Homo sapiens: one gene and its partners. The protein of the gene in region 3 interacts with the protein of the main gene of each other region in a pairwise test. Each region holds a gene or a part of one and is shown on either strand. Other genes may lie near its edges.

Region 1 (3,750 bases), on a different chromosome or scaffold from region 3:
CCCCTTCACTGTCAACGCCATTCTCCACTCGCCCTTGCAGGCTTTTCCGGTAGTATGATTCACTCTGCTGTTGCTTTCTGGCCTGGGGACTCCCTCTTGGGCTTGGCCCATCCTCCCAAGCAGCTGAGGGCAGCTCCAGGGTCCCCTCAGGTTTGGTAGGTGGAAGAGCTGGGGGTATCTGAGGCCCAGCTCAACTCAGCCTGAGCCCCGCAGCAACCCCTCCCCAGCAGCCATTCAGACAACAGTCACTTTCCCCTCTGCCCATGGCAGCTGGAAGCTTGCCTCTTCACGGGTGCATGGGTCCATCCTGGGCCCTGGGGGGTGCTCAGGAGACCTGGGTCCCTCAGCGAGGCTAGATGACCTGCCTGAACTGACCTGCCTGAACTGGCACAATGGGGCTGGTTGAAGGCCGCTCTGCTCCCAGCTCCCATGGGGAGCAGATTGTCCCTGGGGGCTCCTGGGCAGATTGCAGGTGGATCACCTCCACCCCAGAGTTAGAACTTCGGCGGTGCCTGTCAGGCTCATCTCCACACCCCAGAAGGAGAGGGACTGCATGCAGACACACCTGTCTGTGCATGCATGTGCACGTGTGTGCGTGTGCATGCGTGTTTGCATGCATGTGCATGCACCCATATGCTGGCACACAGGCCTGGGAGCAGGACTAGGGAGCAGGTGTGCATCATACAGTGTGTGTCTGTCTACTGACTGTGGGGAGAAGTGGATGAAGGGTCTTAACTGAGTCTTTCAGAGTGCCACAGGTATTAGTATTCCCCTTTAGAGATGAGAACATCACAATGGGAAGAGGTTTGGTGACTAGTTCAAAGTTATAGTGACAGAGCAGGAATCTGGACCCACAGCCGCCAGACCCTAGAGCCCTCCCCTCCCACAGGGCAGCAGGCTGGCCTGGACCGTCAATGGGCACAGGGCAGTAGTGGGGGAATTGTAGAGCGGAGGCTGGAGGTTGGAGCCCAGCGCAGATAGCAGACTGTGAGGAAAACTTGCTCCAGACTCCCCTGCTGTTCCCACCTCCCATCTCCCACCCCGCCGGCCTGGGGCCTACCGTCCAGGGCGAGCAGCGAGTCGTAGAGCTTGCACTGCACTTGCCCAGTGCTCTGGGAGGCGCAGGACATCCAGAGCCCTTCATAGAGGCCCACGGCAGTGATGATGGCGTCGCCTGCGTAGGAAGACTGCTTCCACTGTGGCAGGGCTGTGCTAGCAATGATGCCCACCCAGCCACCCAGGGCCAAGAAGTAGCCCAGGAGCTGGAGGCCTGAGTTGGCCATGGCCCAGGAGAGAGGACCGAGGGTCCCAGGACTCAGAGCTGGGCCAGGGTGCCAGCAGGGGCTTTGGTCATGGCCAGGTGGGAGGAGCAGCTGGGCAGGGGGAGCAGCGAGAAGGAGGGTCAGAGGCAGAGAAGGAGAGGTGGTGCGGCGGCAGCGGCTGGAGCAAAGGCAGTGGCTCTGGACTCCAGAATGCAGGGGGAGGCCCAGGGGCTGGAAAAGGCCAGGGCCCGCCCACAGCAGCCGCCTAAGCCAGAGCAGGGTCCCCAGCAAAGCTCATGCCCAGCCCCCTGGGGGCGGAGGGCCGGCCCATGGCCCAGGTGGTGTCCCTGCCCCGCCCCGTTCCGCAGGGATAGGGAAGGGAGGGGCTGAGAGGAATGACCCAGCTGCCCTCTGGGCCTTTCCCCACAGGGAAACCCCTTTAGGAACCTGATTCGGGTGTCCTAAAATTCGGATAATCCCTAACCCAAACACCAGCCCTGGGAGGATGGACTTTGCTCTTGCAAGGCTGATCTAACCCTTGGGGTTTTCTGCCCTTTGACTTTAGGACAGAAGGGAAAGGAATGCCAGTTTGCAGCGGGTAAAACTAGAGTTAGATGTCAAGGATAACTTTTTGGCAGGGGCTCTGAAGCTGGATGTGGGGAGGCTGAGCTAGCGGTGGGGTGTTGGGAAGAGGGGTCATGGGTACCTGGGAGCTGTGTGTGCCAAAAATCAGGGAGGCCAGACCAGGAAATATGTACTGTGGGGTCTTTTTGAGATCTGAGGGGGACAGAAAAGGGGCCCTATCGAGGCTGGGCCAGCGCTGGCTGCCGGCCAGCAAGGGGCCTGGTGGGGAGCTGGGGAGACAGCCCCAACCTTCTGGCATCAGCCTGAAGGAAGGCGGATTGCTCAGCCCCTTAATCCCCTTGCTGGCTGGCTTAGTAGCTCCTGCTGGGACTGGAACACTGGGCCCTGGCCCCCAACTCTAGAGCAGCCTGGCGCGGAGCAGTGGCCTCTGCACATTCCCGGGGTTCAGGCTGCCCGCTCCGAGCACCCCCACCTCCCTCTTCTCTCTCCCAGTCTCTCTTGGTCTTCAGGAGTAGGGGAATGTTTAACTCTCTTCCACCTCATTAGCAATCCCCTCACGTTCAAGTGGGCCCCACTGCAGCGTGGGTGCAGAAGGAATGTCACAACCCTGCTTCCACTCCTGCCAGCCCCCCGCCGCCCCCTCCGTCCCCAACAGCCCACCCACCCTTCCTGGACTGCACTGGGGGAAGGCAGGGTCCTGCTGCAGACCCCTGCTGGCTTCCTCCCCCACAGCCCCAACCCCCCTCTGAAGGGACAAGTCCCCAGCCCGCTCTTGCATTCTTCACGTGGCTATGCAAACGAGAGGGTGCCAGGCGCTGAGCAGACAATGGCAGCCCTGTGTGCCCGCCCAGGGCGTAGGCCTCTGGTATGGCCTGCAGCTCTGGCCAGAGATGGGGGAGTGGTCTGCCATCTGAGGGTCAAGGGTGGGCACTGCTTGACCTGTGGTGGTGCACACTGGGACCCTCAGGCTCTCTGTGCTGGGAGGGTCAGAGCCACGTGGATCCGAGCACACACAGACCTGCTTCCTGGACGACCTGTGGGTCCCAAGACCAAATGGGGTCTAGGACAGTGGCAGAGAAGTAAGTCCTGAGCTCAGATTCTTCTACCACAATGACAAGACAGTAGGATTGAGGGGAGCCTCCTCCATCCTACTGGGGCCGCAATGGGCACCCTGTGACCAGTGCATTAATTTAAGCATGTGGGCCACTGTTGCAGGCAGCAGGCCTCCTAACAGTAAGGAGACCACGGCAGAGGGAGGTAATAGACCCCCAGCCAGGAAACAGCAGGAAGGGCTTTCCGCTTGAAACTGTGTGGTGCTGGCCCCTGTGGTCTCTCTCCCACACTCCTCCCTTTTTGAGGGAGGCACCAGGTCCAGATTGAAGGGGGCTGCGGGCAGTGACAAGATGCTCCCCAGGGGTGACCTGAATGACTGTGGTGCCTCAGGGTCCTCACTCTAAATGGGAGGTTTGCTTCATGGAGTTGTGGTGGTCCGTTAAAGTAAGCGATGTCTGGGGAGGGCAGGGGCCTGGTGCTGGGTAGCTGCTCCGCATATGCTCCTCCAAAGGCAAAGTCCTCCTTCTCTCCACGCTGGGCCTTGGCCCCTTTTCCCCGCCATCTGCAGGCGCTCTCTCTGTAGGGAAGATCCAGGGGTCATTCTGGTTTCAGGGGGACCTGGGTCAGGAGCCCAGAGGCCAGTCAGAAGCATGCCTCAGAGACCATGGGCTGCGGCCCCCTCCATTGACAATTTGAGGGCCAAAGAGAGAAAGGGAGCCACGGGTCCACAGGGCCACAGAGCCAGCAGGAGGCCTGCATGCTCCTCCATCCTGGGTGTTCCCAGAGCCTCTTCGTGATCCGGAACAGTGCTCTCCTCTTCCTCTGAAGTGCTTCTGTTTATCCCTTCTCT
Region 2 (3,750 bases), on a different chromosome or scaffold from region 3:
CCTCAAAGCCAAAACACAAAAATGGAATATCCCACCCACGTGCTGGATCTCAATATTTCCAGATTACTTCTGAGGTTGGCAGAGGCTTCGGCGGCCCTACGATGTCCAGCATTTAAAGGTGACTAGGGCATGGGCTGAGGGAGGCTCTGAGACCAGGCAGCCTCACTCACAAGCCCTCCAAAAGGCAATTTGCTTTACAGATCAACTAAAAACGGTGTTCTGAGTGTGGTGGTGGCGGGGGAAAAGACACTACTCTACTTAGTAAAATGAAGAGAATTTAGTTACAAAAAAGATATTTAAGAACCTCTATGGGCATGATCACAAATAAGCTGAGACACCCAGACTAGTTGTATAATTCAGCAAATTAAATATTGTTTTTTTCAGAGGGTGCATGGGGCTCCGCAAGACTGCATTAAGAGACAAACCCTTTAAGAAAAGACTGTCACTTGTGCCTCTTTTCCTGTTGACAGGCTGTTGTCTGAACAATGAATCCTGGAAGCACCTAGGAGAAGGCACCTAGGAGAAACGTCTTAGGGAGTAGTCCCGCGGGTCCGCCCCAGGACAGTAACGCTGTCAGTTTCCCCGCCCTTTGCACCTGTAGTGCAGACGGTACCAAATGCGATGGCTTTGAGACGTCCTCTAGACATCGGAGCCCATCATTTACCACAAAGAACACTGAAGTACTTACTTTAGCAGAACATTTTCCGAAGAAAAATTAACAGGGAGAGGAAATGAAGGACACTAACAAACAGACCCCATCTCTAGAGTCTGAGATCAAACCCAAGTCCGATGGAGCCCGGGCATCTGGTGGAGGAAAGCGGGCAGGCATAGCCCCAATCCTGGTCCTCAACAAGATATTTCTGTGAATGAATCCCTCTGCTCCCTGGAGGAGGGCACATTACATATCCCTTTCCTAAATCAGAACTGAAGCAATTTGCCCATCATTCGCACACCTCGACAGGGAAAGGCAGGATTCCAGTGTCTCATCAGACCCGGGAAGAGGGGAAGGGTCGCTGGCGCAGTTACCTACTGGGTTTCCGGGAGCTAGGGAAAACGCCCCTGGGAAACGCAAGTGTTCAGCGCCACATAAAACTTCCCCGGATTTAGGGCCACCCTAAGACGGGCGAAAAGACTCTCCAGCGCCTTAGCAGGTGCAAAGCCAGCTGTCAGTGTGCGCATGGCGAGTCCCCGTTCCCGAGAAGGGACGCAAATGACCCTAGAAAATCAGACAGGAGCAAAACAAACCCAAGAATGACCCTCCACACACCACAAAGGCAAAAGCAAACAGAAGGCACCTAGACACACTCTGCAAAGTGTAGAACTGTCTACACTTGCATGGAGGAATCCACCTTGCAGAGCGAGGGTAGACCTTCCCGGTTCCCAGTGTCTGGGACCGAGGCAGGTCAACACGGGGCCAAGGACATTGCACTCAGGGCCCCTCGCGGCTCCTCCTGCAGCCCGTGGAGTCACCCCAAGACTCGGAGAGCCGGGCTGCGATTGCTTCTCGGGACAGTAAGGACACCTCAAAAGGGATAGATTTGGGGGTGTTTCTCAGAAAGGAGCCACATCTCCGGGAGCCCAGATCTCGGGGGAGAGTCTGGGAGGCGGCTCGCCTCCAGGACCCGAGGCCGCCCCAGGCAAGGAGTGGGGCGCTCTCCGCGTAGGGCAAGTTCACCCCCAGAGCTCGGGACCCTGCAAGTTTCCCTCACTGACCTGCAGGTCAGGACACGCGACTTCCCCGGCAGGTCTCCTGCGCTAGCGGTGGGGCGGTGCTCCGGTCTGGACGATACGCGCCCGCGAAGCCGTCCTCGGGAATGTTGGGCGCAGCGGCGCGGCGCGCAGTCTGGGCGCACGGCGGACAGCAGGCGCAGCGGGAGTGGATCCGGGCTGCCGGCCCCGCACAGCCCGCGCGTCGTCCCTCCGCCCCTCCTGGCCGCACAACCAATGGCCGCGAGCGGGTCCCACTCCTCACCGCCCCCTAGTCTCGGCTCTAGCGGGCGCTTGGCTCTAGGACGGCGCCCAGCTCGGGCGAGGGAGGAGCTTGCGCCACCATTGGAAAATCTCGGAGGACGAGGAGGCGTTGCGCAGGGAGCCCATCTGGGGAAGGCAGGTGTAGTGGGTGAACTTTTTTGTGTGTCGGGGGGAGGAGGGGGGAGTGGGGAGGAGGGCAGTTTTTTTAGGGCTCAGGGGCCTTTCTCTGCAGATGAAAGCATCCACTTCTTGCCAACTTTCTCCTCCTCTTACATCTTTTATGAGTTCCTCGCAGCCCCCACCCAAAACAACTACTCTGGGTGCATCATCGCAAGCCCAGCTCTGACTGAGTTGCGTGGGGCATGGCCTCATCCTGTGATGAGCTTAACCACAGACAGCCCTTGCTCAGCCTTCGCCGCGTGCGCCTCTGAATCCTATACCAAATCATTAAATGAGTCGAATAGGATTGGAGTTTCTGTCATTGCCAGGGAGACAGTCAGTCATGAGTCCCTACTAGGGAACTGGCGTAGAGAGTCATATATCGTAACAGAACTCCGGAAAAGGAGGCTTTAACTGATCCGACCAACTTCAGTTACCAGTCAGTGCTGCTACCTTGACCAGAAGACTCTCTCTCTGTATTCCTGTTTTTCAGCTGGAAAATGAGAGACTTCGATCACTTGGTGGCTGCGGTCTGTTTCACTCTGACATTCAACAATATTGTTGCTCTGTGGCCTGTAAAGGGCTGAACTCCTGGGAAGTGTTGGTGTGGCTACCTGTTCCTTGAGCCCCTACTCCATCTGGTTCTGCTGTCTTCACCGTGAGACCTATTAGTGGCCAGAAAAGCAAATCATGCACAATACAGAATCAGGCCACCCAAGTCTCAGTGACCACCAACACATGCACGTATACTGCCACCCACCAGGGCCCGGCTCCTAGGAGCCTGCTACTTCCACCCATGTTCAATTGTTCTCCACGTAGAGATAGGCAGGGGCACCTGGCTTAACTCTGAAGCTCCGTGGTACATAAGTAAAGGCTCTCTGTCTCTCCCCTTCCTTCTCTAGGGCAATTGTGGGTGGGTGTGAATCTCTCTTATGTGGATCCTTCTGTGCCTGATGTAAAATGCAGGAGGATGGAATGAGCTGTGTTGTCAAGAGGGCAGATTCAGAGAACCACTTCCCTCCGGGCACACTTGGATTGGCTTCCTGAATTTCACCTGTTCATGTGCCATTCTCATGAGTTACCTTACATCCATCTACAGTCTGCTCCATTATGCACTTAGTAAATTTTACCTTAGATTTTTACTTGGCTTCATCGTAAGCAATAATATCTATGAAATTATTGGTTTGTGAGATACCAGTTGTATTTAATATTTTAATGCACAATGAAATGAAGGCATAAGTCTTCCATGCTAAAATCATTCTGAATATCACTGGTTGTTCTCACAACTCACTTTTTGAAACACTAAGGTGTATGGGGGGGCAGTTAGAACTGTTGACCTTCAAAACAGTGGTCCTCAAAATTTCTTTGTGCATAAGATTCCTAGGCCCCAACCCTATTGTCTGGTTCATTCATACTCTACATGTTTGTTTGTTTGTTTTGTCTCTCCCCTTCCTTCTCCAGGGCAATTGTGGGTGGGTGTGAATCTTTTCTATGTGGATCCTTCTGTGCCTGATGTGATCCTTCTGTGAGGAGTCTTGCTCTGTCGCCCAGGCTGGAGTGCAGTGGTATGATCTCGGCTCACTGTAATCTCCACCTCCCTGGTTCAAGCAATTATCCTGC
Region 3 (3,750 bases):
GGTAGCATAACTCCAATTTTTGTCTCCATTTTCACATGGCTGTCTTCTCCCTATGTCTGTTTCTCTGTGTCTTCACCTGGCATTCCGCGCCCCACTTTCCATCTGTGTTTGTGTGTGTGTGTGTGTGTGTGTGTGTGCGCACAAGCATGCCCAAATATTCCTCTTCTTATGAGGGCACCAGTTATATTGGATTAAAGGCCCACTCTGCTCTAGTACAACCTCATCTTAACTAATTACATCTGTAAAAAGTCCTATTTCCAAATAGAGTCACATTCTGAGTACTTCAAAGTATCTTTTTTAACAATGCCTAATTATGAAAGACAACTATTGTGGGAGTGAAAAATCTGATATTTAAGTGAATGGATGAGAATTTTTCACTAGGGAAACCATATTTACCCTAAAAATATCTCAATTACATATTTGTTTCATGCTAGTACCATATTGTGTAGACATTTCTAGCCAAAACATTTGTTTGATTTCTAATCAGCCAAAGGGGTCTGTTGCAGTGGTGTACCCAATTGTCATGTTTAAAGAAATTAGTAGATACTGGAGTGTTTTTAAAATATTTTGTCATTCAATCAGTGCACGTACTGAGATGGCAGAGCTATCCCACCATTCCTGGACTGCTGCTATGAGAGAGAGAAGTTAACTTTGTCTCAATAAAGGCCTGACATTTTAGGGTCTGTGCTCCAGCCTTTAACATATACATTACCAAATGCATGCTCCCTTCTAATTATGAGAGGAGTTAACCACACTGAATTGTCCTAACAGGGACGAGATAGTAGGACAAAGACTGAGAATGGCTCCACACACCTTTAATATCATGAACGAGGGCTAGTTGAGATATTTTTTAGTTTAATGATGTTTTTATTCTCTTGCCTTTTTTAGAGCTTTATTGAAAATGATCCTTTTAACGACACCTGATATCCCAATAGAGGAATAAGATTATTAGCTTTCACCATGAAGATGTTTCTAAACTCATTAAACAGCATATCAAAGGAAGTTTAAATAGTAGTTTATTTTTTAAAATCACCCTAAAATATTTTAACCTGTTTTCATTTCAATAAAATGGTTACGTTGTGCGGTATCTTTAAACTACAGCAGAAGCTCTTTGTGTTCAGAAATAGCTTCAAGAAGTCCAAAAACTCCTTTAAAGTTACATGCAACTTTTGGCATATTTGTGTATGTGGACATTTTTCTGGAAAAAGGATCCTGAGCCTTGATAGGATTCTGAAAAGAACTTGTGACCAAGTCCCCACATCCCTAACAACAAATTTGATAACAACAATTAGAACAGTTAAGAGCAGCTGAACAAAAGGAAATAATTACCTGGATATGTAAGCCATCATAGATTAAACTGAATATAGGCAAATGGATCTATCTCACAAGGAAAATATGGTTTCTAATACATAAAATGACATTCAGGACAACATTTGCATTTTGTGATATATACATTTTTGAGAACTGTATTAGTGCTTCATCAAAAAACATTTGTTTCAAATATATAATTTTTAAAGAGTCATACTTTGACATCGTATTTCTTAATTTTATTTACTTTACTGAATGAAAATTTTCATAAGCATCCATGAGAATTCCATTTATCCATTTTCACTTTTATAATGAAAGTAAAAGCAAGAATATAATTCAAGTTAGAGGACTGTTCTCTGAAAACACTTAAGAAATACACCAGTTTCCCAAAGTGAGGAAATTGTGACTACTTTGTGAAAAAGAAATTAAGTAGTATCTTTTAGAAAAGTCTAAATGATGTAAACCAGTGGTTCTCAAAGTGTGGTCTCTGGACCAGCAGCAACAGGGCAACTTGTTAGAAATGGAAATTCTTGTTCCAGTCCCATCCCAAATCTACTGAATCAGAAACTCTGGGGGGAGGGCTAGAGACTGGTGTTTTAACAAGCCTCTAAGTGATTTTAATGCTCTTTAAAGATTGGCATATAAGCAAACCAAGACATTGCTGGACACTTACCACTGCTCGTATAGACTGTGAATTTAATAGTTGCTACTATTTCATTATTATCCAGTGTGTCACACTCGAAAGCCAAGGGGTGACTTTCCTTGCGTACTTCTAGGATTGCTGAATCATTTACAAGTATAATGGATTGCTATTTAAAAAGAAAAAAATAACAAAGTATCAACATTTTTCATGTACACTTACCAGGAAACAATTTATTTCCCTTAAGGAAAGGAGGGTTACTGTCTCTCTTAGCCTAGTTGAGTAATTAATGATCTACATGGATTTTCAGTCACACAATCCAGACTTCAAATCCCAACCCTACCACTTCCTGCCTGTGTGACTGTGGACAAGTTAGTTACTTACTTGTAAAAATGGGTTTAATGATAGTGATTACCTCAGAGAATTGTTATATGGATGAAAAAAGGCTCTAGCACTCAGTGTCATGTCTGGCACTTAATAAACCCTTAATTAATGTTAGCCACTGCTATCATTATACAACTCCTATATAAGCCAATGAAAACCTTCCTTCCGAAATGGAATACTTTGTGTAAAATAGACGTTTTAAAGTTCTGATTATAGCTGGCCCTTAGACTTATGTAAAGTTTAGTCCTAGTAAATAATGAAAATTTTAAAATTCCAAAATAATAAAGTTGTATAATTCTTAACTTCGTTTTGGCAAACTGCTTTTAAAAAGAAAGTTTTCTGAAAGCCATCAGAACTGAGAAACAAATTTTATCACTCACTAGAAAGCACCAGGTTATATCCATTCATTACTCACTTGGTCTTGTCTTAGAAGTTTCCACATATATTTGAAACGATTTAAGGGAGATGTGTGAATACATGCCAATCTAACACTTTCAAGACTTTCTGAAATTGGTTTACCCCCTGAAAAAAAATTAAGCACATAAATACCATTGGGCATTATAAATTGCTTTATACACGAAATTACTTTTTTTTTTCCTGAGACAGGATCTGGTTCTGTCACCCAGGCTGGAGTAGAGTGGCATGATCTTGGCTCACTGCAATCTCTGCCTCCTGGGCTCAAGCCATCCTCCCACCTCAGCCTCTCAAGTGGCTGGGACTACATGCACATGCCACTGTGCCTGGCTAATTAAAACAAAATTTTGTAGAGATGGAGGTTTCACCATGTTGCCCAGCCTGGTCTCAAACTCCTGAGCTCAAGTGATCCTCCTGCCTCGGCCTCCCAAAGTGCTAAGATTACAGGTGTCACAATACTACTTTAAAAAGCAACCTCCAGTTTTAAAAATCAACTATATGCTGGAAGTTATCAAACATAATTAGGAGTTTGAGTGTAGAGGAACAGAAGACTGATAGGTGCAAAGATAAAGTCACCAAAAGAAGCAGGTGAGGAGACACCATGGCTCTCTGCTCCTTATGCAGAATAAGTTGTAATTGACCTACTGATCTGTTAGACTAAACTATGAGATCTATTAGTGGCTTCCAATGTACTGGTTAGGGACTCCCATTAGAGATACTGAAATTTCAGAACAGCATAATGTGATATGGAACAGCTGTCAAAGTTCCCATTTTAAAGTCTACCAATCTACTGACAAAATGACATGACCAAAGCATCAAAAGCATTTCGCCACAGGACAGCCTCAACTATAGACCCTATATACAGTAAGCCTCCAGTGTATTATAGAGAATATATGTTCAATTTTAGATGTCTCTGAAAAAATGTGAAGCAAAATCAGAAAGTTGCTCAGAACTATAACTGTTTGAAGAAGTGGAATTTAAAATTTTATGATTTCCTTTGAGTA

The links.
Region 1: the proteins of SPACA1 (region 3) and CLDN19 interact in binary tests that used the Homo sapiens proteins (3 or more experiments, as listed by UniProt).
Region 2: the proteins of SPACA1 (region 3) and SERTM1 interact in binary tests that used the Homo sapiens proteins (3 or more experiments, as listed by UniProt).

The regions. Positions count from the first base shown.
Region 1 is NC_000001.11:42,738,781-42,742,530, forward strand, and holds the start of CLDN19 (claudin-19), read right to left. Parts: upstream 1,457-3,750; 5' UTR 1,284-1,456; coding exon 1,061-1,283; intron 1-1,060. UniProt on the Homo sapiens protein: Forms paracellular channels: coassembles with CLDN16 into tight junction strands with cation-selective channels through the strands, conveying epithelial permeability in a process known as paracellular tight junction permeability.
Region 2 is NC_000013.11:36,672,148-36,675,897, reverse strand, and holds the start of SERTM1 (serine-rich and transmembrane domain-containing protein 1), read right to left. Parts: upstream 1,879-3,750; 5' UTR 1,714-1,878; intron 554-1,713; exon of another isoform or gene 471-553; intron 1-470.
Region 3 is NC_000006.12:88,057,820-88,061,569, reverse strand, and holds part of SPACA1 (sperm acrosome membrane-associated protein 1 precursor), read right to left. Parts: intron 2,855-3,750; coding exon 2,748-2,854; intron 2,118-2,747; coding exon 1,982-2,117; intron 1-1,981. UniProt on the Homo sapiens protein: Plays a role in acrosome formation and establishment of normal sperm morphology during spermatogenesis. Important for male fertility.